Regions from separate parts of the Homo sapiens genome. Here regions 1 and 3 are each linked to region 2. Evidence: fine-mapped QTL for protein levels in blood plasma. A gene starts in region 2. Each other region holds a variant in brackets. All regions are shown on one strand. Distances are from middle to middle.

Region 1 (10,241 bases), 30 kb before region 2:
GCAGAAGGGCAGGTTTCTGCCTGCCTCCCAAGCCTGTTATGCTCCAACACCCTCACCTGGTTCCTCTTGACTCCAGCAGCCTCCACCTCCCCAACCTGCAGGGGCTGCCTGGCGCCTGCCCAGTGGAGACTTCCAGCCCTGGCTCCATGCGTCCTGAGACAGAGCCCTGACTTGGCCAGGTTAAAGTCTGACTCAGGAAGGGCTGAGGGTTAAAGAAGAGGAGCAGGAGGTGGGTGGAGCGGAGAGGGAGGATAATGGCAACAGTGACAGCAGCAGCCTCCACTTACAGAGGTCTTGCTAAGCACTTCCATTTCATTCCCTGAATGACCTGGTCAGGCCTATCTTATCAATGAGAAAACAGAAGGTGGAAAACAGAGGCTGGAGGGTGCAGGAGGGGGAGTGATGTGTTTAAGGCCACACAACACACACACTCAGACTTAGGCCTGTTGGACCCAAGGCCATGTCCTAACTCTGAGGGAGGCACTAATCCGCTCCTCGGAGGGTCCCGGGGTCCTGGCTCCTGGCTCGCCCCTCCCCTCCCGGTGTTCCTCCCAGGCCAGCTCCCTCCTCAGCCACTGGTGTGCAGAAACTGGCCAGGGGCTGGGCACAGTGGCTCACGCCTGTAATCCCAGCACTTTGGGAGGCTGAGGCGGGCAGATCACCTGAGGTCAGGAGTTCGAGACCAGCCTGGCCAACATGGTGAAACCCCCATCTCTACTAAAAATACAAAAATTAGCTGGGCGTGGTAGCACGCACCTGTTATCCCAGCTACTTGGGAGGCTGAGGCACAAGAATCACTTGAACCTGGGAGGCAGACATTGCAGTGAGGCAAGAGCACACCACTGCACTCCAGCCTGAGCATTAGAGTGAAACTCAGTCTGGGAAAAACAAACAAAGAAACTTATCTGGGCGTCATGACACATGCCTGTAATCCCAGCTACTCAGGAGGCTGAGGCCTGAGAATCACTTGAACCTGGGAGATGGAGATTGCAGTGGGCCAAGATCGTGCCAGCCACTGCACTCCTGCCCGACCCAACGAGCAAGACTCTACCAAAAAAAAAAAAAAAAAAAAAAAAAGAAAGAAAGAAATTGGCCAGACCTGAGAGCCACCAAACTCAGGTCCTAACCCACCTTGGCTGGGTGACCCTGGATAGGTAATTTGGCTCCTCCTGTCCTCAGAATCCCTTCAGCAGCAGGGACCTCACATGGGCTTTGTGGTCCCTGAGGAACCTTCCGTTCCTGTGGGTTTGCCAGTCCCAGATGGCTGGTGGGCCGTGGAGCTGGGGATCCAACATTCTTCTCAGCCACCTGCTGTGGTCAATAGTGAACCCTGGCTCAGGATTTTGCTCAGTTCCACCTCGCTCAGTTCCCACTGCACTCTCACTAGAGGTGCCACAATAGTCTCCATCTAACAGATGAGGACACTGAGGCTTGAAGAGGCTCAGGTACCTGCCCAGGGTCAGAAGAGAAGCTGGCAAGGACCTGGTCAGGGTGGCAGCCACAGTAATCTCAACACCAGGCCCCCCTGTCCTGGAGGGGCCTTGGGACCATTTGAGTAAGTGCCAGGTCTTCCATGGCCCAGGAACCCCACCGCGCCTGGCTCAGTTGACATTTATTGAGTCCCTACCAGGTACTGGGTTCTGGGATGGGCACAGGGGATCATGGGAAGCAGCACCCTACAGCGCCCAAGCTGACTATTCAGATGCAGAGCTACAAGTTCTAGACTAGAGAAGCAGGGGCAAGGGAGAAGCCCACATACAGGCTGCAGTTAAAGAGGGCTCCCTGAAAGAGAAGGCTCATGCACAGCTTTGAAGCCAGGAACGAGCCAGACCCCAGAAGCCCCAGGCCATGCAGGTGGCAGAGTATTGGGGTTAGGGCACTTACAGTCTGGTGCAAGAACCAAGTGAGTGGGGCTCCAGCCTTCCTTCCCTGAAGGGGCCCCACCAGGTGCACAGAGATGGCTGCTGCAGTCCTGAACATGCCTCCCAGAGCCTTGGGGCACTGCAGACTTTTCCAGAGGCAGGGGAGAAGGGAGGAAACAGCCCTGGCCAGAAAATGCCTCCGAGCTCAGGACTTGGGTCCCCCACACACAGCTCTAACAATAACAACAACAACAACAACAACAACAACAACAATATGGTCATTGCGTGCCAGGAATAGCACCAAGTGCTCTGTTGCATGATTATCCGACTCCGTCCTTATAAGAACCCTGTTACTCATATACAATACACCCCCCAGCAACCCAAGTGACCCTTTCAAAACACAAATCACCTCTAATTAAAAAATGATCCAGGAGAGGATCACTGATAGCCCTGAATATCACCAAGAGCATAAACCAAACATGTTCTGACTCTGGAAACACATACACCACCTGCAAATTATTCCTGCTGTAAAAGTGGCCCTAAATTAGATCACACTGTTGAATGACTAAAATACAGGGACAGAAGAACATGTTAAATAACACCATGGAGATGCAATCAACAAATTCAAGCAGGGCAATGTGTCTCACACCTGTAAACTCAGCACTTTGGGAGGCCAAAGCAGGAGGATCTCTTGAGCCCAGGAGTTTGAGACCAGCCTGGGCAACATACTGAAACACCGTCTCTACAAAAATACAAAAATTGACCAGGTGTGATGGTGCACACCTGTAGTCCCAGCTACTGGGGAAGCTAAAGTGGGAGAATCACTTGATCCTGGAGAGGTCAAGGCTACAGTGAGCCATGATCCCACCACTGCACTCCAGCCTGGGCGACAGAGGGAGATATGTCTCAAAAAAAAAAAAAAAAAAAAAAGTAAATGCCTGAAAAAGAAGAAAAAAATTGAAGAAATCACACTGCACAATTTGGAAGCTTAATGCAAACATACAGGAACCAAGAAAGTGTGATACTGCTTAAAGATAGATATATAAGTCAATTGAATAGAACTGACAGTCCAGAAATAAATGGTCACAATTGCTATTTGATAAGATGCTAAGAAACTCAAATGGGGGCCAGGCATGGTGGCTCACGCCTGTAATCCCAGCACTGTGGGAGGCTGAGGCGAGTGGATCACTTCAGGTCAGAAGTTTGTGACCAGCCTGGCCAACATGCTAAAACCTCGTCTCTACTAAAAATACAAAAATTAGCCAGGCATGGTGGTGTGCACCTGTAATCCCAGTTACTGGGAGGCTGAGGCAGAAGAATCACTTGAACTTAGGAGGTGGAGGATGCAGTGAGCCGAGATCACGCCACTCACTGCACTCCAGCCTGGGTGACAGAGTGAGACTCTGTCTCAAAAAAAAAAAAAAAAAAAAAATTGGGAGGCTGGGTGTGGCTCATGCCTGTAACACGAACACTTTGGGAGGCCAAGGCGGGAGGATCATTTGAGGTCAGGAGTTTGAGACCAGCGAAACCCCATCTCTAATAAAAATACAAAAAATTAGCTGGGTGTGGTGGCACATGACTGTAGTCCCAGCTACTTGTGAGGCTGAGGCAGGAGAACTGCTTGAACCTGGGAGGCAAAGGTTGCAGTGAGCCAAGATCGTGCCACTGTACTCCAGCCTAAGCGACAAAATGAGACTGTCTCAAAAAAAAAGGTGGGGAGGCCAGGCATGGTGGCTCATGCCTGTAATTCCAGCAATTTGGGAGGCTGAGGTGGACGGATCACCTGAGGTCAGGAGTTCGATACCAGCCTGGTCAACATGGTGAAACCCCATTTCTACGAAAAATACAAAATTAGCAGGGCATGGTGGCACATGCCTGTAGTCCCAGCTACCCAGGAGGCTGAGGCAGGAGAATCGCTGGAACCCAGGAGGCGGAGGTTGCAGTGAGCCGAGATCACACCACTGCACTCCAGGCTGGGTGACAGAGCAAGTCACCGGCTCAAAAAAAAAGCGGGGGTGGGGGGTGGGAAATAATAATCTTTTCAACAAATGAACAAATGGTGCTGAGACAACTAAATATCCACATGTAAATGAATGAATTTGGGGCCAGGCGTGGCAGCTTATGCCTGTAATCCCAGCACTTTGGGAGGCCGAGGCAGGCTGATCATGAGGTTAGGAGCTCAAGACCAGCCTGGCCAAGATGGTGAAACCAAGATGGTGTACTAAAAATACAAAAAATTAGCCAGGCATGGTGGTTGGCACCTGTAATCCCAGCTACTCAGGAGGCTGAGGCAGAGAATTGCTTCAACTTGGGAGATGGAGGTTGCAGTGAGCCGAGATCACGCCACTGCACTCCAGCCTGGGAGACAAAGTGAGACTCTGTCTCAAAAAAAAAA[AAAAAG/A]AAAAGAAAAGAAAAGAATGAATTTGGACCTCTATCTCACAGAATACACACATATAAATTTTTTATTTTCTTCTTTTTTTTTTTTTTTTTTTGAGATAGGGTCTCACGTTGTTACCCAGGCTGGAGTGCAGTGGTGCCTTCTCAGCTCACTGCAGCCTCGACTTCCTGGGTTCAAGTGATTCTCCTGCCTCAGCCTCCTGAGTAGCTGGGATTATACGTGTGTGCCACCATGCCTGGCTAATTTTTGTATTTTAATTAGAGATGGGGTTTTGCTATACTGGCCAGGCTGGTCTTGAACTCCTGGCCTGAAGTTGTTCTGCTCATGACGGCCTCCCACAGTGTTAGGATTGCAGGCATGAGCCACCATGCCTGGCCAGCCCAGGCTGTTCTTGAACCCCTGACTTCAAGCGATCCTCCTTCTTCAGTGTAGGGAAAAGAAAGAGAGATCAGACTGTTACTGTGTCTATGTAGAAATGGAAGACATAAGAAATTCCATTTTGACCTGTACCTTGAACAATTGCTTTGCTGAGATGTTGTTAATTTGTAACTTTGCCCCAGCCACTTTGCCCTAACTTTGAGCTCACAAAAACATGTGTTGTAGGGAACCAGGGTTTAAGGGATCTAGGGCTGTGCAGGATATGCCTTGTTAACAAAATGTTTACAAGCAGTATGCTTGGTAAAAGTCATCGCCATTCTCTAGTCTCAATAAACCAGGGGCACAATGCACTGCAGAAAGCCACAGGGACCTCTGCCTTGGAAAGCCGCGTATTGTCCGAGGTTTCTCCCCATGTGATAGTCTGAAATATGGCCTCGTGGGATGAGAAAGACCTGACCGTCCCCCAGCCCAACACCTGTAAAGGGTCTGTGCTGAGGTGGATTAGTAAAAGAGGAAAGCCTCATGAAGTTGAGATAGAGGAAGGCCACTGTCTCCTGCCTGCCCCTGGGAACTGAATGTCTCAGTATAAAACCTGATTATACATTTGTTCAATTCTGAGATAGGAGAAAAACCACCCTATGGCGGGAGGCGAGACACATTGGCAGCAATGCTGCCTGCTATTCTTTACTCCACTGAGATGTTTGGGTGGAGAGAAACATAAATCCGGCCTACATGCACATGCAGGCATAGTACCTCCCCTTGAACTTAATTATGACAGATTCTTTTGCTCATGTTTTTTGCTGAACTTCTCCTTATTATCACCCTGCTCTCCTACTGCATTCCTCTTGCTGAGATAATAAAAATAATAATCAATAAAAAGTGAGGAAACTCAGAGACCGGTACTGGTGCAGGTCCTTGATATGCTGCATGCCGGTCTCCTGGGCCCACTGTTGTTTCTCTACACTTTGTCTCTGTGTCTTATTTCTTTTCTCAGTCTCTCATCCCACCTGACGAGATATCCCACAGGTATGGAGGGGCAGGCCACCCCTTCATCTGACGCCCAATATGGGGCCTTTCTCCAGGGTGAAGTTATGCTGAGAACGTGAGTATTGAGGACAGCTGATGAGAGATTCCCGAGTACGTCCACGGTCAGCCTTGCAGTATGCTTGTGCGCTCGGAGGAATCCAGGGTAACAATGGGGCAAACTGAAAGTAAATATGCCTCTTATCTCAGCTTCATTAAAATTCTCTTAAGAAGAGGGGGAGTTAAAGCTTCTACAGAAAATCTAATTACGCTATTTCAAACAATAGAACAATTCTGCCCATGGTTTCCAGAACAAGGAACTTTAGATTTAAAAGATTGGGAAAAAATTGGCAAGGAATTAAAACAAGCAAGTAGGGAAGGTAAAATCATCCCACTTACAGTATGGAATGATTGGGCCATTATTAAAGCAACTTTAGAACCATTTCAAATAGAAGAAGATAGCATTTCAGTTTCTGATGCCCCTGAAAGCTGTGTGATAGATTGTGAAGAAGAGGCAGAGACAGAGTTCAAGAAAGGAACGGAAAGTTCACATTGTAAATATGTAGCAGAGCCGGTAATGGCTCAGTCAACGCAAAGTGTTGACTACAATCAATTACAGGAGGTAATATATCCTGAAACATTAAAATTAAAAGGAAAAAGTCCAGAATCATTGGGGCCATTGGGGCTACAACCACAATGGCCACCTCCTCCTCAGCCGAGTGAGTGCTGGGGGAGGCAGCCTGAAACTAGGCACACTGCGACTTGGCTCGTGGCACTCATTATTGCCCAACCTACAGTTCACTACAGTGAAGGAGCAATTCAGACTCGCCCTGCAGTGTCCTGTATGGGTCAAACAGTGGCCACTCTCTAAGGAAAAGTTGGGGGCGCTACATAAAATAGTTAAAAAACTATTTAAAAAAGGACATGTTTCACCCACTTTCTCTCTTTAGAATTCTCCTGTGTTTGTAATTCAGAAAAAATCAGGCAGATGGCGCATGCTGACTGACTTAAGAGCTGTTAATGCCATAATACAACCCATGGGTGCTCTCCAACCCGGGATGCCCTCTCTGGCCATGATCCCCAAAGACTGGCCTTTAATTATAATTGATCTGAAGGACTGCTTTTTTACCATTCCTCTGGCAAAACAGGATTTTGAAAAATTTGCTTTTACTATACCAGCCGTAAATAATAAAGAACCAGCCAGGTTTTAGTGGAAAGTGTTGCCTCAGTCCAACTATTTGTCAGACTTTTGTAGCTCAAGTTCTTCAACCAGTTAGAGACAAGTTTTCAGATTGTTATGTCATTCATTATGTTGATGATATTTTGTGTGCTGCAGAAACAAGAGACAAATTAATTGACTGTTACACATTTCTGCAGACAGATGTTGCAAACGCAGGACTGACAATAGCATCTGATAAGATTCAGACCTCTACTCCTTTCCATTATTTGGGAATGCAGGTAGAGGAAAGGAAAATTAAACCACAAAAAATAAAAATAAGAAAAGACACATTAAAAAACATTAAATGACTTTCAAAAATTGCTAAGACATATTAATTGGATTCGGCCAACTCTAGGCATCCCTACTTATGCCATGTCAAATTTGTTTTCTATCTTGAGAGGGGATCCAGACTTAAACAGTAAAAAACCATTAACTCCAGAAGCAACTAAAGAAATTGAATTAGTTGAAGAAAAAATTCGGTCAGCACAAGTAAATAGAATAGATCATTTAGCCCCACTCCAACTTTTGATTTTTGCTACTGCACATTCTCCAACAGGCATTATTGTTCAAAATACTGATCTTGCAGAGTGGTCATTCCTTCCTCACAGTACAACTAAGACTTTTACATTGTACTTAGATCAAATGGCTACATTAATTGGTCAGGCAAGACTACATATAGTAAAATTGTGTGGAAGTGACCCAGATAAAATCATTGTTCCTTTAAACAAGGAACAGGTTAGACAAGCTTTTATCAATTCTGCTGCATGCCAGATTGGTCTTGCTGATTTTGTGGGAATTATTGACAATCATTACCCAAAAACAAAAATCTTCCAGTTCTTAAAATTGATTACTTGGATTTTACCTAAAATTACCAGATATAAACCTTTAGAAAATGCTCTGATGGCGTTTACTGATTGTTCCAGCAATGGAAAAGTGGCTTAAACTGGGCCAAAAGAACAAGTCATTGAAACTCAATATCACTCAGCTCAAAGAGCAGAGTTGGTTGCTGTCATTTCAGTGTTACAAGGTTTTAATCAGCCTATTAACATTGTTTCAGATTCTGCATATGTAGTACAGGCTACAAAGGATGTTGAGACAGCCCTAATCAAATATAGTATGGATGATCAGTTAAATCAGCTGTTTAATTCGTTACAACAAACTGTAAGAAAAAGAAATTTCCCATTTTATATTACTCATATTCGAACACATACTAATTTACCAGGGCCTTTAACTAAGGCAAATGAACAAGCTGACTTGCTAGTATCATCTGCATTCATAAAAGCATAAAAACTTCGTGCCTTGACTCATGTAAATGCATCAGGACTAAAAAATAAATTTGATATCATATGAAAACAGGCAAAAAATGTTGTACAACATTGTACTCAGTGTCAAGTCCTACATGTGCCCACTCAGGAGGCAGGAGTTAATCCCAGAGGTTTATGTCCCAATGCATTATGGCAAATGGATGTCACACATGTACCTTCATTTGGAAAATTGTCATTTGTCCATGTGACAGTTGATACTTATTCACATTTCATATGGGCAACCTGCCAGACAGGAGAAAATACTTCCCATGTTAAAAGACATTTATTATCTTGTTTTGCTGTCATGGGAGTTCCATAAAAAATTAAAACAGATAATGGGCCAGGATACTGTAGTAAAGCATTTCAAAAATTCTTAAATCAGTGGAAAATTACACACACAACAGAAATCCCTTATAATTCCCAAGGACAGGCCATAATTGAAAGAAGTAATAGAACACTCAAAGCTCAATTGGTTAAACAAAAAAAGGAAAAGGACAGTAAGGAATATAACACTCCCCAGATGCAACTTAATCTAGCACTCTATACTTTAAATTTTTTTAACATTTATAGAAATCAGACCGCTACTTCTGCAGAACAACATTTTACTGGTAAAAAGAACAGCCCACATGAGGAAAAACTGATTTGGTAAAAAGACAACAAAAATAAAACATAAAAAATAGAGAAGGTGATAACGTGGGGGAGAGGTTTTGCTCGTGTTTCACCAGGAGAAAATCAGCTTCCAGTTTGGGTACCTACAACTTACAGAAAAAGTTGCCATCCACCAAAAAAGCGAAGCCGCCGACCTGGGCCCAGCTAAAGAAGCTGACACAGTTAGCTGAAAAAAGCCTAAAGTACACAAGGGTAACACAAACTCCAGAGAATATGCTGCTTGCAGCTTTAATGATTGTATCAATGGTGGTAAGTCTCACTATGTCTGCAGGAGCAGCTGCAGCTAATTATACTTACTGGGCCTATGTGCCTTTCCCGCCCTTAATTCAGGCAGTCACTTGGATGGATAATATTCTATTGAAGTATGTGTTAATATTAGTGCATGGGTACCAGGACCCACAGATGACCGCGGCCCTGCCCAACCTGAAGAAGAAGGAATGATGATAAACATTTCCACTGGGTATCATTATCCTCCTATTTGCCTGGGGAAAGCACCAGGATGCTTAATGCCTACAACCCAAAATTGGTTGGTAGAAGTATCTACTGTCAGTGCCACCAATAAATTTACTTATCATATGGTAAGTGGAATGTCACTTGGGTCACAAATGAATAATTTACAGGACTCTTCTTATCAAAGATCATTAAAATTTAGGCCTAAGGGGACCTTGCCTCAAGGAAATTCCCAAAGAATCAAAAGACCCAGAAGTCTTAGTTTGGGAAAAATATGTGGCTGATACTGTGGTGGTATTACAAAACAATAAATTTGGAACTATTATAGACTGGGCCCCTCAAAACCAATTATATTATGGTTGTATGGGCCAGACTCACTCATGTTCACAGACCCCATCTGTCTGGCCCACTAATCCGGCCTATGATAGTGATTTAACTGAAAGGCTAGACCAGGTTTATAGAAGGCTAGAATCACCCTATCCATGGAAATGGGGTGAAAAGGGGATTTCATCACCTCAACCAAAGTTAGTTAGTCCTGTTACTGCTCCTGAACATCCAGCATTATGAAAGCTTACTGTGGCCTCGCACCACATTAGAATTTGGTCTGGAAATCAAGTTATCGGAACAAGAAATCATAAGCCACATTATACTATTAACCTAAATTCCAATCCGACAATTCCTTTGCAAAGTTGTGTAAAACCCTCTTATATGCTAGTTGTAGGAAACATAGTTATTAAACCAGATTCCCAAACTATAACCTGTGAAAATTGTAGATTGTTTACTTGCATTGATTCAACTTTTGATTGGCAGCACCATATTCTGCCAGTGAGGGCAAGAGAGGGTGTGTGGATCCCTGTGTCCATGGACCGACCGTGGGAGGCTTCCCCATCCATCCATATTTTAACAGAAGTATTAAAAGGAGTTCTAACTAGATCCAA
Region 2 (10,241 bases):
CACACCTCTATCAGCCTGGGCAGCTACTGGCCATTTGCTTGACCCGAAGGCAGTGGATGACCCCTGGGCCCGTGGAATGCATCACTGATGCATTCCAGGGGCTGATGTCAATAACCCAGGGGCTGATGTCAGCTATGCCACTGTCCCCCAACCCCCATTGGACCAGCTCTGCCCAGAAGCCTGTGGTGACACTGGACAAAGTCCAAAGCCTCCTCAGCCTGGCGTTTGGAGCCGGCTGGAATCCAGGCTTGGCAGCCTCCACCTTCCCTCCCTTTACTCTTTTTTTATTTTAGAGATAGGGTCTCGCTTTGTCACCTAGGAGCCTTGAACTCCTGAGCTCAAGTGATCCTCCTGCCTCAGCCGCCTGAGTATCTGGGACTATAAGTGCATGCCCCAACCCCCAGCTCAAATTCTTTGCTTTTAAAAAAAAAAAAAAATAGAGACAGGGTCTCCCTATGTTACCCAGGCTGGTCTTGAACTCCTGGGCTCAAGTGATCCTCTGGTCTTGGCCTCCTAAAGTCCTGGGATTACAGCTTGGATTATAGGCATGAGACACCACACCCAGTCATCCTTTGTTCTTTTTTTTTTTTTTTTTTCTGTTTTTGAGACAGAGTCTGGCTCTGTCGCCCAGGCTGGAGTGCAGTGGCGTGATCTCAGCTAACTGGAAGCTCCACCTCCCGGGTTCACGCCACTCTCCTGCCTCAGCCTCCCGAGTAGCTGGGACTACAGGCGCCCGCCACCACGCCCTGCTAATTTTTTTTGTATTTTTAGTAGAGACAGGGTTTCACCATGTTAGCCAGGATGGTCTCAATCTCCTGACCTCGTGATCCGCCTGCCTCGGCCTCCCAAAGTGCTGAGATTACAGGCATGAGCCACGGCACCCGGCCTTTTTTTTTTTTTTTTCTTGAGATAGAGCCTCTCTCTTCACTCTGTCACCCAGGCTGGAGTGCAGTGGCACAATCTTGGCTCACTGCAACCCCCACCTGCCGGGTTCAAGTGATTCTCCTGCCTCAGCCTCCCAAGTAGCCGGGATTACAGGTGCACGCCACCACGCCCAGCTAATTTATTTTTATTTTTATTTTTTTGAGATGGAGTCTCACTCTTTCACCCAGGCTGGAGTGTAATGGCACGATCTCGGCTCACTGCAACCTCTGCCTCCCGGGTTCAAGTGATTCTCCCACCTCAGCCTCCCGAGTAGCTGGGATTACAGGCACCCACCATCATGCTCGGCTAATTTTTGTATTTTTGTAGAGATGGGGTTTCACCATGTTGGCCAGGCTGGTCTTGAACTTCTGGCCTCTGGTGATCTGCCTGCCTTGACCTCCCAAATTGCTGGAATTACAGGTGTGAACCACTGTGCCCAGCCACCCTTTGCTTTTGAATAAATGTTGCCCATCTTCACTCAAGCTGTTTCCCCTGCCTGGCATACCCTCCAATCCAAAATCCCTAGCAGGGCCTAGCCCCACCTGTACCTCCTCTCTGAAGCTTCTGTGTCCACCCAGGCCCTTTGCTGAACTCAGAAAGCACCTACCTGTGCCTGACCCTCTCCCCCAACCCCATGCTAAATTCTCTAATCCTCATCACAGCTGATTAGGATGGTATTATTTACTCTATTTTGCTCAAAAGGAGAACAAGGAAAACTCACTCAGCCTAGAGAGCTCCAGCTGTGATTCAAACCCTGGTTTGCCTATTTCCAAAGTCCAAATTCTGTCCCGTGAAATCTCCTCTCAGGCGGGTGCTAGGGCTGACAGGAGACCACCAGCCCCTTGGGGACAGGAGCCATGTCTTGTCCAACTTCACCTTGCATGGCTGCTTACAAGGGCAGGCGAGGTGACCATGCCTTCCCAGGGTGGCCCCACGTCACATCACTCAAGTCAATTATGACATTCGGTTTTGGAGCTTCTCAATAGGGGCACACTTAGAATTTGAGATGAGTCAGTTCTTCACTGGGGAGAGCTATCTGGAGCCTTGAAGGATGTTTAGCATCCCTGGGCTTAAAATGCCAGGAGACTCCCAGTTACTGAGACAACACACATCGTGGCACCTCTAGAGAAAGGGTACAGAACTGGGGATACCATGCCCAGGAAGACCAGTCTAGTGCATGAATAACCACAGAAGACCAAACCTTGGACTTGGATCAAATAGTCCCAGCTCCACCATAAACTAGCTATGGGACCTTGGTCATGCCAGGCCGCAGCCTCTTGGGGGCTCAGCTTCCTCATCTGTACAATGAAGGTGACAAGAATCCACAGAGAATATACTGTGGGTCCTGGCTCACAGCCACTTGTCAATGACAACAAGCTATTAACTTTTTTTTTTTTTTGAGACAGTCTTGCTCTATCGCCCAGGCTGGAGTGCAGTGGCACAATCTCGGCTCACTGCAACCTCTGCCTCCCAGTTTCAAGCGATTCTTGTACCTCAGCCTCCAGAGTAGCTGGGACCACAGGCACGTGCCACCACACCCAGCTAATTTTTGTATTTTTGATAGAGATGGGGTTTTACCACGTTGCCCAGGTTGGTCTCGAACTCCTGAGCTCAAGCGATAGTCCCACCTCAGCCTTCCAAATTACTGGGATTATAGGCATGAACCACCACACCCAGTCAACAAGCTATTAACATTTAAACCTACCAGGCTTTCCATAAAATTAGTAACCAAGCAAAATGAAAAATCTCTTATTATATAATGAATCCAAATTTTTTTTGATAGAAAAAAAACAGAATTCCCTGAAGACAAATGTTTGGTGACAATTTGTTGAGCCAATGTTTTCCTGGAGAGAACAGCCTGTCTGAGGAGATCTAACAATTGCGTCACTCAGACACAGTCCCCCTGGGCTTAGGAATTGGCAGAGGAGAGAGAAATGACTTCTGGAGTCCAGACGGCAGGTTTACAGGCTGGAGGGGTTGGTGGAAGACCTGAGTGACACAAACAGTAGGTATCTCACCACTTATTCCTCCTGGCACAGGACCCAGATTCAAAAACCACAATCTCACTCCCATACATTAAAGGAACACACAACAGATAGGCAGATAGCCTCGCGGGAGCCTTGGAGGAGGTGGCATCAGCTTTACAGGTGGGGAAACTGAGGCTTAGAGAGGGGAAATGACTTACTCGAAGTCCCAGAAAAGCACCAGGAGGCCCCCAGCTGCAAGCTGGGGAATGAGGGCATAGGATGAGCATTTTAAAAATTATGCCGGGAGGCCGGGCGCGGTGGCTCACGCCTGTAATCCCAGCACTTTGGGAGGCCGAGGTGGGCGGATCACAAGGTCAGGAGATAGAGACCATCCTGGCTAACACGGTGAAACCCCGTCTCTACTAAAAATACAAAAAATTAGCCAGGCGTGGTGGCGGGTGCCTGTAGTCCCAGCTACTTGGGAGGCTGAGGCAGGAGAATGGAGTGAACCCGGGAGGTGGAGCTTGCAGTGAGCCGAGATTGCACCACTGCACTCCAGCCTGGGCGACAGAGTGAGACTCCGTCTCAAAAAAAAAAAAAGGAATTATGCAGGGAACTGGCAGTGCCATCCAGGAGTGGGATGTGGCCCCAGGTCTGTTCTGGCAGGAGTTACAGTGACTGCCTCATGGCTGTGAAGGCTCCTGCATTCCTTTATCGCCCCCACCTGGATTATAAAATCAGGCGCCCTACTCTTTGGAGCTTGGAGAGGTTAGTGTGGCGTTCTGGTGGTTGGCACCTAATGGAGGCATTCTCCGGGAGGAAAGATTCCTGCTGAAGCCAGACTGAATGGGTCTAACTTGTATATTCTCCAATCCTGTTGGTCACCCTCAGTTTCTTAGTGGACACCAAGGCCAAGTCCAGGGTAGGAGCCCATCTCTCCTTGAGTCTCCAGCCTCATCATTTCTCCTTCTGGACATCCTAGTTTCCAGTCACATTGAAAGTCCCTTCCTTGGAGAAGCCCCTTCTGACTCCACCCAGGCTAAGCCACATGTCCCCTCCCAGGTGGTCCCAAGACCTGGGCTTCCGCCCTCAAAGTACTCAGCACGGGGGCGCTCAACTCCAAGGACAGGAACTATGTGCTTGACCTGTTCTCCACCAGATCCTCAGCCTCTGGCAGCTCACCCAGCACAGAGTAGGTCCCCCAGGCATTAGCACAGATGATCCTGGGAAGCTAAGGGAGAGGCCTGGGAGCCCAGCAGCCTTCCTAGGGAGGGAGGGAGACCTGTAGGAACCCCCTTCTGGCAACTTTCTTAATCTCTCTGTGCCTCACTTATCTGTAAAATGAGACTTATCTGCGTGTAAAATACAAAGTATAATACGTGGGAACATTCACTGTCTACAACTGTGGTTCTGGTTGTTCATTTTACAGGCGGGGACATGGAGGCCCACGGAGTACCTGGCAGGCCCACAGTCCACAGGTTGGAAAGAGGTGCCCAAGCCCTGGACTTTAAGCCTGGGCTCTGACCTTCAACGTTTGCTTTTCACACCACACATCATGTCAATAAATAGTTACTGGATGCCTGTTGTGTGCCAGGCCCCAAGACGGGTGTTGCGTGACTGACAACAGAAAAAGCATCTCAGTGGCGAGGGATAAGCTAGATCATGGGCATTAGTGTAAATCTCCCAGGGTTCAAATTCCAGCTTCTCCACTTCCTGGCTATGATTTTTTTTTTTTTTTAGACGGAGTCTTGCTCTGTTGCCCAGGCTGAAGTGCAGTGGCCCAATCTCAGCTCACTGCAAGCTCTGCCTCCCAGGTTCATGCCATTCTCCTGCCTCAGCCTCCCGAGTAGCTGGGACCACAGGCGCTCGCCACCACACCCGGCTAATTTTTTTGTATTTTTAGTAGAGACGGGGTTTCACCGTGTTAGCCAGGATGGTCTCGATCTACTGACCTCGTGATCCGCCCGCCTCAGCCTCCCAAAGTGCTGGGATTACAGGTGTGAACCACCGCGCCCGGCCCTGGCTATGATATTGCTAAGTTTCCTAACCTCTCTAAGGTTCTTTTCTCTTCTATTAAAAGGGAAAAATAAGACCTCCCAACAGAAGTGAAACTAGGCATTGGCTTAACACGTGATGGATGGGAGCCACGACTATCTTCATCATCTTATTTTTAATTATCTATCTGTGCACATGGTAGTAAATTTCTCGCCCTGGCCCAGGTACCCAAGACCCCAATTCTGTCGGAGACAACCGCAATTAACAACTTCTTGTGCATCTTATCAGACAGCTGGCGCGCACACCCGCAGATACGCCCACCCTCAGGCGTCCTTCTACGCAAAGATGGATAGCACCCATCAACGCTGTTTTTTCTTTTTTTAGACGGAGTCTCGCTCTGTCGCCCAGGCTGGAGTGCAGCGGCGCGATCTCGGCTCACTGCAAGCTCCACCTCCCGAGTTCATGCCATTCTCCTGCCTCAGCCTCCAGAGTAGCTGGGACTACAGGCGCCCACCACCACGCCCGGCTGATTTTTTTGTATTTTTAGTAGAGATGAGGTTTCACCAAGTTAGCCAGGATGGTCTCGATCTCCTGACCTCGTGATCCGCCCGCCTCGGCCTCCCAAAGTGCTGGGATTACAGACGTGAGCCACCGCAACCGGCCCAACGCTGTTTTTACTGTTGTTTCCTTTTTTAACCTAAGGTATCTTAGAAGTCACCCTACATTAGTGCATATTAAACATTGTTCGTCTTAATGGCTGCACAGTATTCCACTGTATGGATTATTTTTTAATTTGGTTGCCGGTACTGTTATCAGCCAGGGAATTTGCGAGGACCCAGCGGGATTTATGGAGCTGCAGAGTTGGAGTCTGGGGACCCAATTCCAACCCCAGATCTGTCCAGAATTCTGTTGTCTCGGGTATCATCTCCACCGGCGCGGTCGTGGGAGGGGGATTTGGGTGCAGACAGGACCAGCCCCAGTGTCCGAGCGAGAATCAGCGAGCAGCACGCGCAGTTGATTCCCGCGGGCGGCTCAATCATTCTGTGCAGCCACTCCGTTATACTTAGTAGCATCAAACTCATTAAGCACTCTAGCACAACCAAGCTCGGAACCGTTAGCCGACCCTCCCAGCCTCGGCACCTGACCTTGGGGAAGTGGCGCTCCGACACAGCTACTCACCCTCACCTGGGCCGCTTCACCCCTCGTTCCCAAGTACACCCCGTAGGTTGCAGCAGTCCCTGTCCCTTTAAGGGGGCCGAGCCCGGCTCCGCTACTTCCGCCCCGAAGCAGCAGGGCGCTAGCGCGGAGGCGAGAGCGGGAGAAAGCGCCGCTAGAATTCTCCTCATAAAGATGGCGACGCCCTGGCCGCCGCGTTCGCGCCCGGCGGTGACGTCACTTCCGGGGCGGAGGAGGCTGAGTGGTGCAGTGAGGGACAAACAAAAGGAGGCGCCGGAGCAGCGCTGCGGCCGGCGGCGGGACGGAGCGGCCGGGGCCTGGGGCTGCCTGCCGGGCGGCCGGGCGCGGCGAGCCCAGGTGAGTGGACGGGGTGGGGAAAGGGGCGCGAGCTGTCACCTCTCGAAACCCACTTACACACGCCCTCGGCCAGCTGCCCGGCCCGGGGCGCCCGGGGCATCTGGGGCTCTGTCTCCGGGCCGGCCCCCTGGGGACCTCCCGCGGTGTTCGGCCTACCTCTGGGCTCCCCAGTGCCCGGAGTCTCCGGGGCACCACCTTCTCGCCGGCTCCGCGGCGCGCGAGCCCCCTCCCAGGCACCCCTGTGCCTCCTTGTGCTTCAGAAACCAGGAGTTTCCGCCTCGGCTCCCCCATGTCCCCTTGTCATCCCCTGGGTCCCCCCAGATCCTCACCCCTCCACACACACTCTCCCGTTCCTAGAGGTTCCACCTCTGGGCTCTCTCCTTGCCATTTCTTTTTCAAAGATTTCCTTAGCTGTCTTCTCCTGAGTTCCTGGTCCCCTTCTCTTCCCTTGCACCCCTCCTTCCTATCGTTCCGATGGGGGCAGTGCCCTGACTTGGGGGCAGGATCCCCGGCTAGGCTCTTGGGGCCTTTCTGGGATGGGATATTTGGGAAGACCGGTCCGGAATCTAAGAACCCAGACCCTGTCCCAGTCCTGTGCATTCAGGTGGGCCCGAGGGCGAGGCGAGATCCAGTGAGGTCCAGGCCTGGTGCAGCCCTAGGTGAGCTGGATACCCAGCAAACTGAGCTCCCAGGCTGAAGGGGCATAGCTGGGGTCATGGAGTTCATGATGATTCTGCTGCTTTCGCTGACTGCTTCTTCCCCTTGATCTGGACCGGGGTGAACCGAGGTCTGCCGGTTCTCAGCTGTTGCGATTGTTGCCTTTTTTGGGAAGGAGGGATGGGTCGGGGGTTGTCTGGTAGCCGCCTCCTGATGGAGACTTGGCTGGAAGGGTGGGCGGTTCCTGGGTGAGCCACACTTCCACTGACTCCTCTTCCCCTGCCCTACCTCAGGAAGCCTTTTGAGAATGAGGTGTGGAGGGAGAGCACCTGGTAAGAGGAAGGGAACTGGGGGAGCCCGAAGTTCCCAAGGACCTCTTCCACCTCTTCTGTTAGTAGTACTCTTAACCCCTGCCAAACTGTATTCTGCCCTTTGGAGCAGACAACCTGGCAGACAGACAGGCTGTAAGAAGCGGGAGGAGATCGGCTGTTGCTGATACTTCCTGTGGAGGGGATGTGGGAGTGGGAGTTTGTTCAGAGAGACTGGGCAGTGCTGATTGCTCAGTCTCACTGGTGTTGCTTCCATGAAGGTCAAGTCTTCCTCTGGCTCATGAAGTGAGGCAAGGACAGATGACCTGTGCTGGAGGAGGCTGTTGTGGACATGCCAGGGATGAGTGACTGGGTGGCTGGTCTCTGCTTCCTTGTTTTCCTGGTCTCAGGGCTTTGGCATGGGGTCTGATGCCCTCTGCGTTCTAGGGACCATAGGGTACAGAGCAGGGGGTGCAGGGCCGGGCGTGGTGGCTCACGCCTGTAATCCCAGCACGTTGGGAGGCTGAAGCGGGCAGATCACGAGGTCAGGAGTTCGAGACCAGCCTGGCCAACATAGTGAAACCTTGTCTCTACTAAAAATACAAAAAATTAGCCAGGCATGGGGCTGCGCACCCGTAATCCCAGCTATTCGGGAGGCTGAGGCAGGAGAATTGCTTGAACCCAGCAGGCAGAGGTTGCAGTGAGCCAAGATCGCGCCATTGCACTCCAGCTTGGGCAAGAAGAGCAAAATTCCATCTCAAAAAAACAAAAAAAAAAACAGAGCGGGGGCACAGGAAATGTTCATGACTTCCCCCCAGAACTTGACTAGATGTGGTGGTTCTCCATCCCTTAGGCACACCCACCAGGAAGCCGTTTCCTTTGCAAACTCTTGAATGACCTTTCTGGACTGTAGGGAATCCTGGGGATCACTGCCGTGGGTCAGAACTCAGGGAAGTGGCCGGACCCTGGGTTGCTGCCTGGCTTGGCCTGGACCTTGCCTGTAGGAGTTGGAGGGAAATCAGCCTGGTTCCTGACTGCCTCGTCTTAGAGTAGAGCTGATTCCAGGTTTTCACATGGAGAAACTGAGGCACACACTGATGGGCCAAGACCTCTTGGAGATTCAGGTGGGATGGATGTGGGGCTCTTAGAGCCCAGCACAGTGTCTCTCCATGCCTTGACTCATTCATTCATTCATTCATTCATTCAGCCATTCTTTAGAAAGTGCCTGTCTTGGGCCTGGGATGGCTGGGAAAACATCCCTGGCCTCCTGAGAGCTGCAGTCTGGGAGGACAGGCAAACCAGAAGACACATAAGTTCTGATATACTGTGGCCACCATATTAATAGAAATATTACAGAGGCAGCCCAGAGGAAGAAGGAATTAGCTCTGGGTGGTTATGTAGGGGGTGGTCAGGGTATGCTTTCTGGAAGAGGAGGGACTAGAATAATTAGTGACAGGGAGTCCAGGGGCCCAAGTTCTGGACCTGGCTCTGCCATGGGCAGGTGATTGGACCACCCAGCCTCAGTGGGTGCCCCATCCTTGACAAGGAGGGTAGAGTGAGGTAGAGGTTGGCTTGGATGGCCTCCGTGCCTATATAGCTGTAGGTACTTTACTGCCTAGTCACCACCACCCCGTATGGAATTGCAGGGTTATTGACCTACCTCCCATGACGGCGGAGACCATCTTCCATGTCTGCCCTCCCAGCACAGGGCCTGGAACTTAGTCAATATAGTAAATACCCAGTGGTAGAAATGATGGAAAAACAGCCATCCCTCCTAGATCAGTCCAGGTGTCTTTGTCTACCCCCGCCCTCCTCCTTCCTGGGTAACTCCTGCTGATCCTTTGGCTCTCTCTGGTGGCTGGGCCACTCTCCCAGCTCCTGGCTCCCCGAAACCCGTGTCGTAGTGATCACAGCTTTCCCTACCCTGCCACTCCCATGCACAGTTCTGCACAGTGTCTGGCGCATATGGAGTAGATGCTCACCAGAGGCTGGTTGACTGTCGGAGATGATGGGTGGATTTGGTGTTTAAGTTGGAGTCTGGGCACTGGCTGGTCTCTGCCTGACCCAGCCACCCCACTGTGGCTCATCTCTTGCCACTTCCCCTCTCTGGCTCTGGATCTCGCCATGCCGAGCCCGCAAGCCTTCTCCAGATGCCATGTACTCTCTCCTCCAGGTAAACATGTGCTGTTCCTCCTGCCTGGAATGCTCTTTTTCCAGCTCCTACTCTTAGGAGTCAACTCAGACAACTCCTCCTCCAGAAAGCCTTCCCTGACCCCACTAGTCTGGGTCTAGTGCTTCTCCTGGCTCCCCCGCAGCAGAGCTCTGAGCTCTCAGACCGTCGCTACTGACTTGGCACCTCCTCAGTAGACCAGGTTCTGGAGGGAGGTGCTCTGTCAGAACCTCTTTTGTCTGCCAGGCGCGGTGGCTCATGCCTGTAATCCCAATACTTTGGGAGGCCGAGGCGGGCAGATCCCTGGAGGTTAGGAGTTTGAGAGCAGCCTGGCTAACATGGGGAAACGCTGTCTCTACTAAAAATACAAAAAATTAGCCAGGCTTGGTGGTGCGCACCTGAAATCCCATCTACTCGAGAGGCTGAGGCAGGAGAATCACTTGAATGCGGGAGGCGGAGGTTGCAGTGAACCGAGATTGCACCACTATACAAAAAAAACCTCTTTTGTCACCCCAGAGCCCAGCCAAGGGCCTGCTACCAAGCAGGCTCTCAGGAAGTGCTGGCGGTGTGGCAGGTAACTGCGACAGTCACACATGTGCCTGCTGACGGCAGCTCTCGCTTCCTTGTAGGGAGGCAGCGTCCATGGAGCAAAAGGAATGCCAGGATCCTGCACAGGCAGACGCGGGC
Region 3 (8,747 bases), 52 kb after region 2:
TGAGGTCAGGAGTTTGAGACTAGCCTGGCCAACATGGTGAAACCCTGTTTCTACTAAAAATACAAAAATTAGCTGGGCCAGGTGATGCATACCTGTAATCCCAGCTACTTGGGAGGCTGAGACAGGAGAATCGCTTGAACCCAGGAAGTGGAGGTTGCAGTGGGCCAAGATCATGCCACTGCACTCCAGCCTGGGCAACAGAGCAAGAATCCTGTCTCAAAAAAAAACAAAAACAAAAACAAAAAACTGATATATCTTGGTTTATAATGCATGCAAAGAAAAGAGCTTGGCATGGTGCCCAGCACTCAGTAACATCCTCAATATTCACTCTTGATACTGTGAGAAAAAAAAAGATCAGTGGGCGTCCTGTTTCATTTTCTTGGGTTACCTCCAGCTTTCCTTGTTTGAGTTATTTTACAACACTGTAAGTTGGATAAAACTGATAATAATGCACATGATACTTGTCCAAGTAGGGGGTCAGTACCACTCTGTTCCAATCACGTTACCATGAACTGGGTCCTGGGGAATGCAATTATTGCCCTGTGGATAGAACAGTTGGGCAGCTGGGTGTGGTGGCTCATGCCTGTAATCCCAGCAGTTTGGGAGGCCAAGCAGGGAGGATCGCTTGAGCCCAGGAATTCGCAAACAGCCTGGTCAACAAAGTGAGACCTGTCTCTACAAAAAAATTTTTTTAAATTAGCTGGGCATGGTGGTATATGCCTGTGGTCCCAGCTACATGGGAGGCTGAGGCAGAAGGATCACTTGGGGCCAGGAGGTTGAGGCTGCAGTGAGCTATAATCATGCCACTGCACTCCAGTCTGGGTGGGTGATAAAGAAAGACCCTGTCTCAAAAAAACAAAACAAAACAAAAAACAGTTTGCATCTATCTCTAAATTCATTTCAAGGGCCAGGAGTGGTGGCTTATACCTGTAATCCCAGCACTTTGGGAGGCTGAAACAGGCAGATCGCTGGAGGTCAAGGGTTCAAGACTAGCCTAGGGAACATGGTGAAACCCGGTCTCTACCAAAAATACAAAAATTAGCTGGGCATGGTGGCAGGCGCCGGCGGTCCCAGCTACTTGGGTGGCTGAGGCAGGAGAATCGCCTGAACCCTGAAGGGAGAGTTTGCAGTGAGCTGAGATTGTGCCACTGCACTCCAGCCTGGGTGACAGAGCGAGATTCTATCTCAAAAAAAAAAAAATTCATTTCAGTTTCCTTAGTATCTACATACGTGTGTGTGTAATTCTTGGAATTCTCCTTTGAACCAGTTGTAACATCTTACTGGTTCCCTCATGAAATAACGAATTCAGTAAAATATTTGACATATGCTTAGCATCATTACCTTTAATATTTTTACCATCCAGGCATGGTGGCTCAAGCCTATAATCCTAGCACTTTGCAAGGCCAAGGCAGTGGACAAATCACTTGAGCTCAGGAGTTTGAGACCAGCCTGGGCAACATGGTGAAACCCTGTCTCTACAAAAAATACAAAAAAAAAAAAAATTAGTCGTGGCCGGGCATGGTGGCTCATACCCGTAATCCCAGCACTTTGGGAGGCCAAGGCAGGCAGATCATTTGAGCCCAGGAGTTCAACACCAGCCTGAGCAACATGGCAAAACCCCATCTCTACCAAAAATCCAAGAAAATTAGTTGAGAGTGGTGATGCACGTGTGTAATCCTGGCTACTTGGGAGGCTGAGACAGGAGGATAGCTTGAACCCAGGAGATGGAGGTTGCAGTGAGCCAAGATTGCGCCACTGGACTCCAGCCTGGGGGACAGAGTGAAACCCTGTCTCAAAAAAAAAAAAAAAATTAGGCATGGTGGTGTGAACTTGTAGTTCTAGCTACTTAGGAGGCTGAGGTGGAAGGATCACCTGAGCTCAGGAAGTCAAGGCTACAGTGAGCCGTGATCCCATTGCACCATTCACTCCAGCCTGGCCAACAAAATGAGACACTGTCTTTTTAAAAAAAAAAAAACAAACCCTGGCATGGTGGCTCATGCCTGTAATCCCAGCACTTTGGGAGGCTGAGGTGGGCAGATCACCTGAGGTCAGGAGTTCAAGACCAGCCTGACCAACATGGAGGTTGAGGTGAGCCAAGATCGCGCTAATGCACTCCAGCCTGGGCAAGAGTGAACCTCCGTCTCAAAAAAAAAAAGAAAAAAACAAACAAAAAAAGCACCTCGGCCGGGTGCAGTGGCTTACGCCTGTAACCCCAGCACTTTGGGAGGCCGAGGCGGGGGGATCACAAGGTCAGGAGATCGAGACCATCCTGGCTAACACAGTGAAACCCCATCTCTACTAAAAATACAAAAAATTAGCTGGGTGTGGTGGCGGGCACCTGTAGTCCCAGCTACTCGGGAGGCTGAGGCAGAAGAATGGCGTGAACCCGGGAGGCGGAGCTTGCAGTGAGCCGAGATTGGGTCACTGCACTCCAGCCTGGGCGACAGAGCGAGACTCTGTCTCAAAAAAAAAAAAAAAAAGGCACCTCAATTTCTTCTTCTATAAAATGGAGATTATAGTAGACCCTACCTCTCTGGGTTTTGGGAGGCTGAGTAAGATAACACATGTACAGGCATGTCTCAGAGATAATTCAGGTTTGGTTCCAGACCACTGCAATAGAGCCAGGATTTTTTTGTTTTGTTTGAGATATATTTTCGCTCCTGTCATGCAGGCTGGAGTGCAGTGGCGTGATCTCAGCTCACTGCAATCTCCACCTCCTGGATTCAAGTGATTCTCCTTCCTCAGCCTCCAGAGTAGCTGGGATTACAGGCGTGTGCCACCACGTCCTGCTAATTTTTGGATTTTTATTAGAGACGTGGTTTCACCATGTTGGCCAGGCTGTCTCGAACTCCTGACCTTAGGTGATCCACCCGCCTTGGCCTCCCAAAGTGCTAGGATTACAAGCATGAGCCACAGCACCCATCCTAGAGCCAGGATTTAAACCCAAGGATTTCAGCTCCAGAATCTGTGTCCTAACTGCTATAAGATTCAGCCTCTGGCTGAAGCCTCCAAGAATTGAGGAGGTCAGTTTTTTGTTTTTCTTTTTCTTTTTTTTTTGAGACGGAGTCTCGCTCTGTCACCCAAGCTGGAGTGCAGTGGCGCGATCTCGGCTCACTGCAAGCTCCGCCTCCTGGGCTCACGCCATTCTCCTGCCTCAGCCTCTGGAGTAGCTGAGACTACAGGCGCCCGCCACCACACCCGGCTAATTTTTTGTATTTTGTTTAGTAGAGACAGGGTTTCACCGTGTTAGCCAAGATGGTCTCGATCTCCTGACCTCGTGATCCGTCCGCCTCAGCCTCCCAAAGTGCTGGGATTACAGGCGTGAGCCACCTCGCCCGGCCTTTCTTTCTTTCTTTCTTTCTTTTTGAGATGGAGTTTTGCTCTTGTTGCCCAGACTGGAGTGCAATGGTGCGATCTTGGCTCATTGCAACCTCCACCTCCTGGGTTCAAGCAATTCTCCCATCTCAGCCTCCCAAGTAGCTGGGATTACAGGTGCATGCTACCACGCCCGGCTAATTTTTGCATTTTTAGTAGAGATGGGGTCTCATCATATTGGTCAGGCTGGTCTCAAACTCCTGACCTCGGGTGATCTGCCCACCTCAGCCTCCCAGAGTGCTGAGATTAAAGGCATGAGCCACCGCACC[C/T]GGCCTGGGGAAGTCAGTTCTATTATTATTATTATTATTGTTATTATTATTATTATTTTTTTTTTTTGAGATGGAGTCTCGCACTGTCACCCGGGTTGGAGTGCAATGGCACAATCTCAGCTCACTGCAACCTCTGCCTCCTGGGTTCAAGCGATTCTCCTGCCTCAGCCTCCTGAGTAGTTGGGATTACAACAGGTGCCCACCACCACACTCGGCTAATTTTTTGTACTTTTGTTTTTATTTTTATTTTTTCTTGAGATGGAATTTCGCTCTTGTTGCCCAGGGTGGAGTGCAATGGCACGATCTTGGCTCACCGCAACCTCCGCCTCCCAGGTTCAAGCAATTCTCCTACCTCAGCCTCCCGAGTAACTGGGATTACAGGCATGCGCCACCATGCCCGGCTAATTTTGTAATTTTAGTAGAAATGGGGTTTCTCCACGTAGGTCAGGCTGCTCTTGAACTCCTGACCTCAGGTGGTCTGCCCTCCTTGGCCTCCCAAAGTGCTGGGATTACAGGTGTGAGCCACTGCACCCAGCAATTTTTTGTATTTTTAGTAGAGACGGGGTTTCACTATGTTTGCCAGGTTGGTCTTGAACTCCTGATCTCGTGATCCGCCTGCCTCAGCCTCCCAAAGTGCTGGGATTACAGGTGTGAGCCACAGTGCCTGGTTGGTCAGTTCTATTATTATTCCTTATTTATTTATTTATTTATTTATTTATTTATTTATTTATTTTTTGAGACAGAGTCTTGCTCTGTTGCCTAGGCCAGAGTGCAGTGGCCCAATCTTGGCTCACTGCAAGCTCTGCCTCCCGGGTTCACGCCATTCTCCTGTCTCAGCCTCCGGAGTAGCTGGGACTACAGGTGCCTGCCACCATGCCCGGCTAATTTTTTGTATTTTTTTTAGTAGAGACGGGGATTTCACCATGTTAGCCAGGATGGTCTCGATCTCCTGACCTCGTGATCCGCCCACCTCGGCCTCCCAAAGTGCTGGGATTACAGGCATGAGCCACTGCACCCAGACTTTTTTTTTTTTTTTTTTTTTTGAGACAGAGTCTCACTCTGTCGCCCAGGCTGGAGTGCATAGTGCAATCTCGGCTCACTGCAACCTCCGCCTCCCATGTTCAAGTTATTCTCCTGCCTCAGCCTCCCGGGTACCTGGGACTACAGGTGCCTACCACGCCCAGCTGTTTTTTGTATTTTTAGTAGAGACAAAGTTTCACCATGTTGGCCAGGCTGGTCTCGAACTCCTGGCCTCAAGTGATCTGCCTCAATATGCTGGGATTACAGGTGTGAGTCGTTACTCCCAGCCATTATTATTCCTTTTTTTACAGATGAGAAAATGAAGTCTTGGTGACATAAAACCAGGGGCCCAAGGCTGCTAGGGAACCAGCCCTATTCGACTCTAGCATCCATGTTCTGAATCACAGTATAGTGAGGTGTCCAAGAAATTCCATGTTTGCATCTTTGGGGTGTGCTTCCAGGCACTTGAAGTTCTGGCTCACTGTCTGTGCCTCAGTGGACAAGTCTGAGAAGCCCCCAGGGTGTCTGTAACCCTGTGAGGGTGGGAAGCTTCTGAATCCGCCTCCCTCTTTGCCAGGCCCAGCTCTGACCCCAGGATGCTGTCTCAGTCCTCTGATGTCCCCTTTCCACAGGGCAGCACAGACTATTTCTTGAGCAGTGGTGACAAGATTCGATTCTTCTTTGAGAAAGGCGTTTTTGATGAGAAAGGTTTGGAGCTGGGGCCCTAGAGCTGGGGAGGAGCCATGGTGAGGGTAGGCTGGACCTGGGAATCTGCCCCCTGGGCTGGAAGCATGCTGAAGCCAGCTGCCCATGGAAGGCTGGACACCAGTTCTCTGCCTTTATCTGTTCTTTGTGCCACAGGAAATTTCCTGGTCCCTCCGGAGAAATCCATCAACAAAATTGGCCACGGTGAGCAGGGGCTTGGGGGTACAGGAAAGAAGATCGGGGAACAGGCTGGGAGTGGTGGCTTACACTTGTAATCCTAACTAACACTTTGAGAAGTCAAGGTGGGCAGATCACTTGAAGTCAGGAGTTCAAGACCAGTCTGGCCAACATGGTGAAACCCCATCTCTACTAAAAATAGAAAAAATTAGGTGAGTGTAGTGGTGCACACCTGTAGTCCCAGCTACTCAGGAGGCTGAGGCAGGAGAATTGCTTGAACCTGGGAGGCGGATGTTGCAGTGAGCTGAGATGTGCCATTGCACTCCAGCCTGCCTGGGTGACAGAGACAGAGTGAAACCCTGTTAAAAAAAAAAAAAAAAGAAAAGGAAAAAGCATGGGGAAACTGGGGAAACTGAAGCCTGAAGAGTTTAGGAGCTTTAATGAAAGCCCATAGTGGCTGGGCGTGGTCGTTCACGTCTGTAATCCCAGGACTTTGGGAGGCCAAGGTGGGTGGATCACCTGAGGTCGGGAGTTCAAGACCAGCCTGACCAATGTGGAGAAACCCTGTCTCTACTAAAAATACAAAATTAGCTGAATATGGTTGCGCATGCCTGTAATCCCAGCTACTTGGGAGGCTGAAGCGGGAGAATAGCTTGAACCCGAGAGGCTGAGGCTGCAGTGAGCCGATATCATGCCATTGCACTCCAGCCTGGGCAACAAGAGTGAAACTCCGTCTCAAAAAAAAAAAAAAGCAAACAAGAAAGAAAGCCCATAGTAAATTAGTGGTCGGGTAAATGGCATTTGTGGCTTCAGGCTCCCCTCTGGTCTTGGGCCCCTCTGCTAATCATGACACTGCTGCCACAGCACTGGGGATAGGGGGTCCACCTGATCCCCCCTAACAGGTGGGCATGTGCAGGCTCTCTACTGCCTGGCCTGGGGGAGCTCCTGGGTCCAGTGCTCCCTAGAGCCACCCTAAGGGGCACCTGACCTGCTGACAGGGTCCCTATTCTGACACCCCAAAGTCAAGTAAGAAAACCCTCACTTTTTTTCTTTAGGATCATACATTATAATTTGTTTTATAGGCTATTTATTTTTTTAAATAAAATTGAGAGGAGGTCTCGTTATGTTGCCTAGGCTGATCTTCAACTACCGGGCTCAAGTGATCCTCCTGCCTTGGCCTCTCAAAATGCTGGGATTATAGGCATAAGCCACTGCACTTGGCCTAGAATGCTTATTGTTAAGCCTGAAGTTATATCATGGTAAGCTTGTAGACAAGTTGTGGTAAAATACACGTAAGATTTACCATATCATTGCCGGGCGTGGTGGCTCACGCCTGTAATCCCAGCACTTTGGGAGGCTGAGGTGGGCGGATCACGAGGTCAGGAGATCGAGACCATCCTGGCTAACACAGTGAAACCCTGTCTCTACTAAAAACACAAAAAATTAGCCGGACCTTGTTGTGGGCGCCTGTAGTCCCAGCTACTGCCACTGCACTCCAGCCTGGGCAACAGAGCGAAACTCTGTCTCAAAAAAAAAAAAAAAAAGAAAAGATTTACCATATCATCATAACCCTTTTAAAGTACGTAGCTTGGCCGGGCGCGGTGGTTCACGCCTGTAATCCCAGCACTTTGGGAGGCCGAGGCGGGTGGATCACGAGGTCAGGAGTTCAAGACCAGCCTGGCCAATATGGTGAAAAACCATTTCTACTAAAAATACAATAATTAGCTGGGCGTGGTGGCACATGCCTGTAGTCCCAGCTGCTCAGGAGGCTGAGGCAGGAGAATCGCTTGAACTAGGGAGGTGGAGGTTGCAGTGAGCCGAGATTGTGCCACTGCACTCCAGCCTGGGCGACAGAGTGAGACTCCATCTCAAAACTAAATAAATAAATAAAAATAAAAAGTACATAGCTCAGTGGTATTAAATGCATTCAATCTTATGTTTATGACAATGAGGGACTATCCCATGCCAGGCCCTGGGCTGTCCCTGCACATTCATTAGCCCATCGAGTCCCACACCAGTCCTGCCTCCCAGGTTCTTCTAATCCTCATTTGACAGAAGAGGAAACTGAGGCTTACAGGAGAGAAATGGTTACCCGAGGCCACACAGAGCAAATGGTGGTACCGAGATTGCTCCGCATGATTGGTGCCTTGGAGCCCTTAGTCGTCTGTGAGGGGTGGGGAGTCGGGGCTGGACTGAGCTTCCCAGAAGGTCAAGAATAAGGGCATGGGTGGCATAGGGCCTGGGGTGGGGGCAAGGCTCCTGTGGAGCCCATTACTCAGTTGTAAACAAGCAGAAGGGTTAATGCCTACAAAGTAAGTGAGAATGTCAAAGTAAGCCTGAGTGTGGGTGCCCAGAGCTGGGTGTGGAGGGACACGTGGGCCTGAGATGGGGCCGACAGCTTCCTTCTGTCCCATAGCTCTGCACGCCCACGACCCCGTCTTCAAGAGCATCACACACTCCTTCAAGGTGCAGGTGAGCAGAGGTGGGGGTGAGGGCCAGGAGGGTGGGCCATGTGTGGCAGGCTGGCAGCATGACCTTTGCCCCCCTCCAGACCTTGGCCAGAAGTCTGGGCCTCCAGATGCCCGTGGTGGTGCAGAGCATGTACATCTTTAAGGTGAGCTCCTTGTCCTTGCCTCAGTTTACCATCTGTAAAATGGGCAGACTGCTCATACCAAGCCCTTCCTTACAATGGGCCAAAAGTTGCTGGAATTATTATGTTGGTGGGAGAACATGGAAAATCGGTCTCCTCTGGCTAAAGCACCTGGAACTTAGTTGATCCTCAGTTAAAATTTGGTGGTAGGGGCCGGGCGTGGTGGCTCATGCCTGTAATCCCAGCACTTTGGGAGGCTGAAGCGGGCAGATCACCTGAAGTCAGGAGTTCGAGATCAGCCTGGCCAACATGGAGAAACCCCATCTCTACTAAAAATACAAAAATTAGCCGGGCGTGATGGCACACACCTGTAGTCCCAGCTACTCGGGAGGCTGAGGCAGGATAATTGCTTGAACCCAGGAGGTGGAGGTTACAGTGAGTGGAGATCACGCCAATGTACTCTAGCCTGGGGGATAGAGCAAGGCTCCGTCTCAAAAAAAAGAAAAATTTGGCCAGGCGCAGTGGCTCACGCTTGTAATCCCAGCTCTCAGGGAGGCAGAGGTGGGAGGGTAGCTTGAACCCAGGAGTTTGAGACCTGCCTGGGCAATATA

Alleles and levels. Positions count from the first base shown, and alleles are read on the strand shown. Strength reflects both the effect of a copy and how common the allele is.
For the plasma level of the protein whose gene starts at base 6,119 in region 2, allele AAAAAG in region 1 goes with a higher level than allele A (moderate association).
As copies of T replace C in region 3, the plasma level of the protein whose gene starts at base 6,119 in region 2 goes down (moderate association).

What was found. A credible set is the group of variants that fine-mapping cannot tell apart. PIP is the chance, under the fine-mapping model, that this variant and not a neighbour inherited with it causes the effect. The UK Biobank Pharma Proteomics Project read protein levels with antibody pairs (Olink). The fine-mapping took linkage between variants from a reference panel, not from the people measured, so its PIPs are less certain.
Region 1: its variant is the best candidate, but not a certain one, in a credible set for the plasma level of the KYAT1 protein (UK Biobank, PIP 0.57).
Region 3: its variant is the best candidate, but not a certain one, in a credible set for the plasma level of the KYAT1 protein (UK Biobank, PIP 0.74).

What each region holds. Positions count from the first base shown.
Region 1 is chr9:128,845,549-128,855,789 of GRCh38, forward strand. The region is part of intron 1 of KYAT1-SPOUT1 (KYAT1-SPOUT1 readthrough); the gene reads right to left. The region is part of intron 1 of KYAT1 (kynurenine aminotransferase 1); the gene reads right to left. Among named protein-coding and RNA genes, the nearest start is that of SPOUT1, 21 kb to the left of the region's middle. The variant AAAAAG/A (reference allele first, on the strand shown) is at 4,258.
Region 2 is chr9:128,875,832-128,886,072 of GRCh38, forward strand. It overlaps KYAT1 (kynurenine aminotransferase 1), which reads right to left and starts at 6,119. Exons shown (of 13, transcript NM_004059.5): 1 at 6,066-6,119. It overlaps KYAT1-SPOUT1 (KYAT1-SPOUT1 readthrough), which reads right to left and starts at 6,119. Exons shown (of 25, transcript NR_182311.1): 1 at 6,066-6,119. It overlaps LRRC8A (leucine rich repeat containing 8 VRAC subunit A), which reads left to right and starts at 6,302. Exons shown (of 4, transcript NM_019594.4): 1 at 6,302-6,419; 2 at 10,184-10,241. RefSeq lists enhancers at 6,189-6,338, 9,615-10,241 and a silencer at 6,369-6,648.
Region 3 is chr9:128,928,486-128,937,232 of GRCh38, forward strand. It overlaps PHYHD1 (phytanoyl-CoA dioxygenase domain containing 1), which reads left to right. Exons shown (of 13, transcript NM_001100876.2): 5 at 5,297-5,372; 6 at 5,526-5,573; 7 at 7,963-8,018; 8 at 8,098-8,160. Among named protein-coding and RNA genes, the nearest start is that of PHYHD1, 12 kb to the left of the region's middle. RefSeq lists a silencer at 2,825-3,119. The variant C/T (reference allele first, on the strand shown) is at 3,645.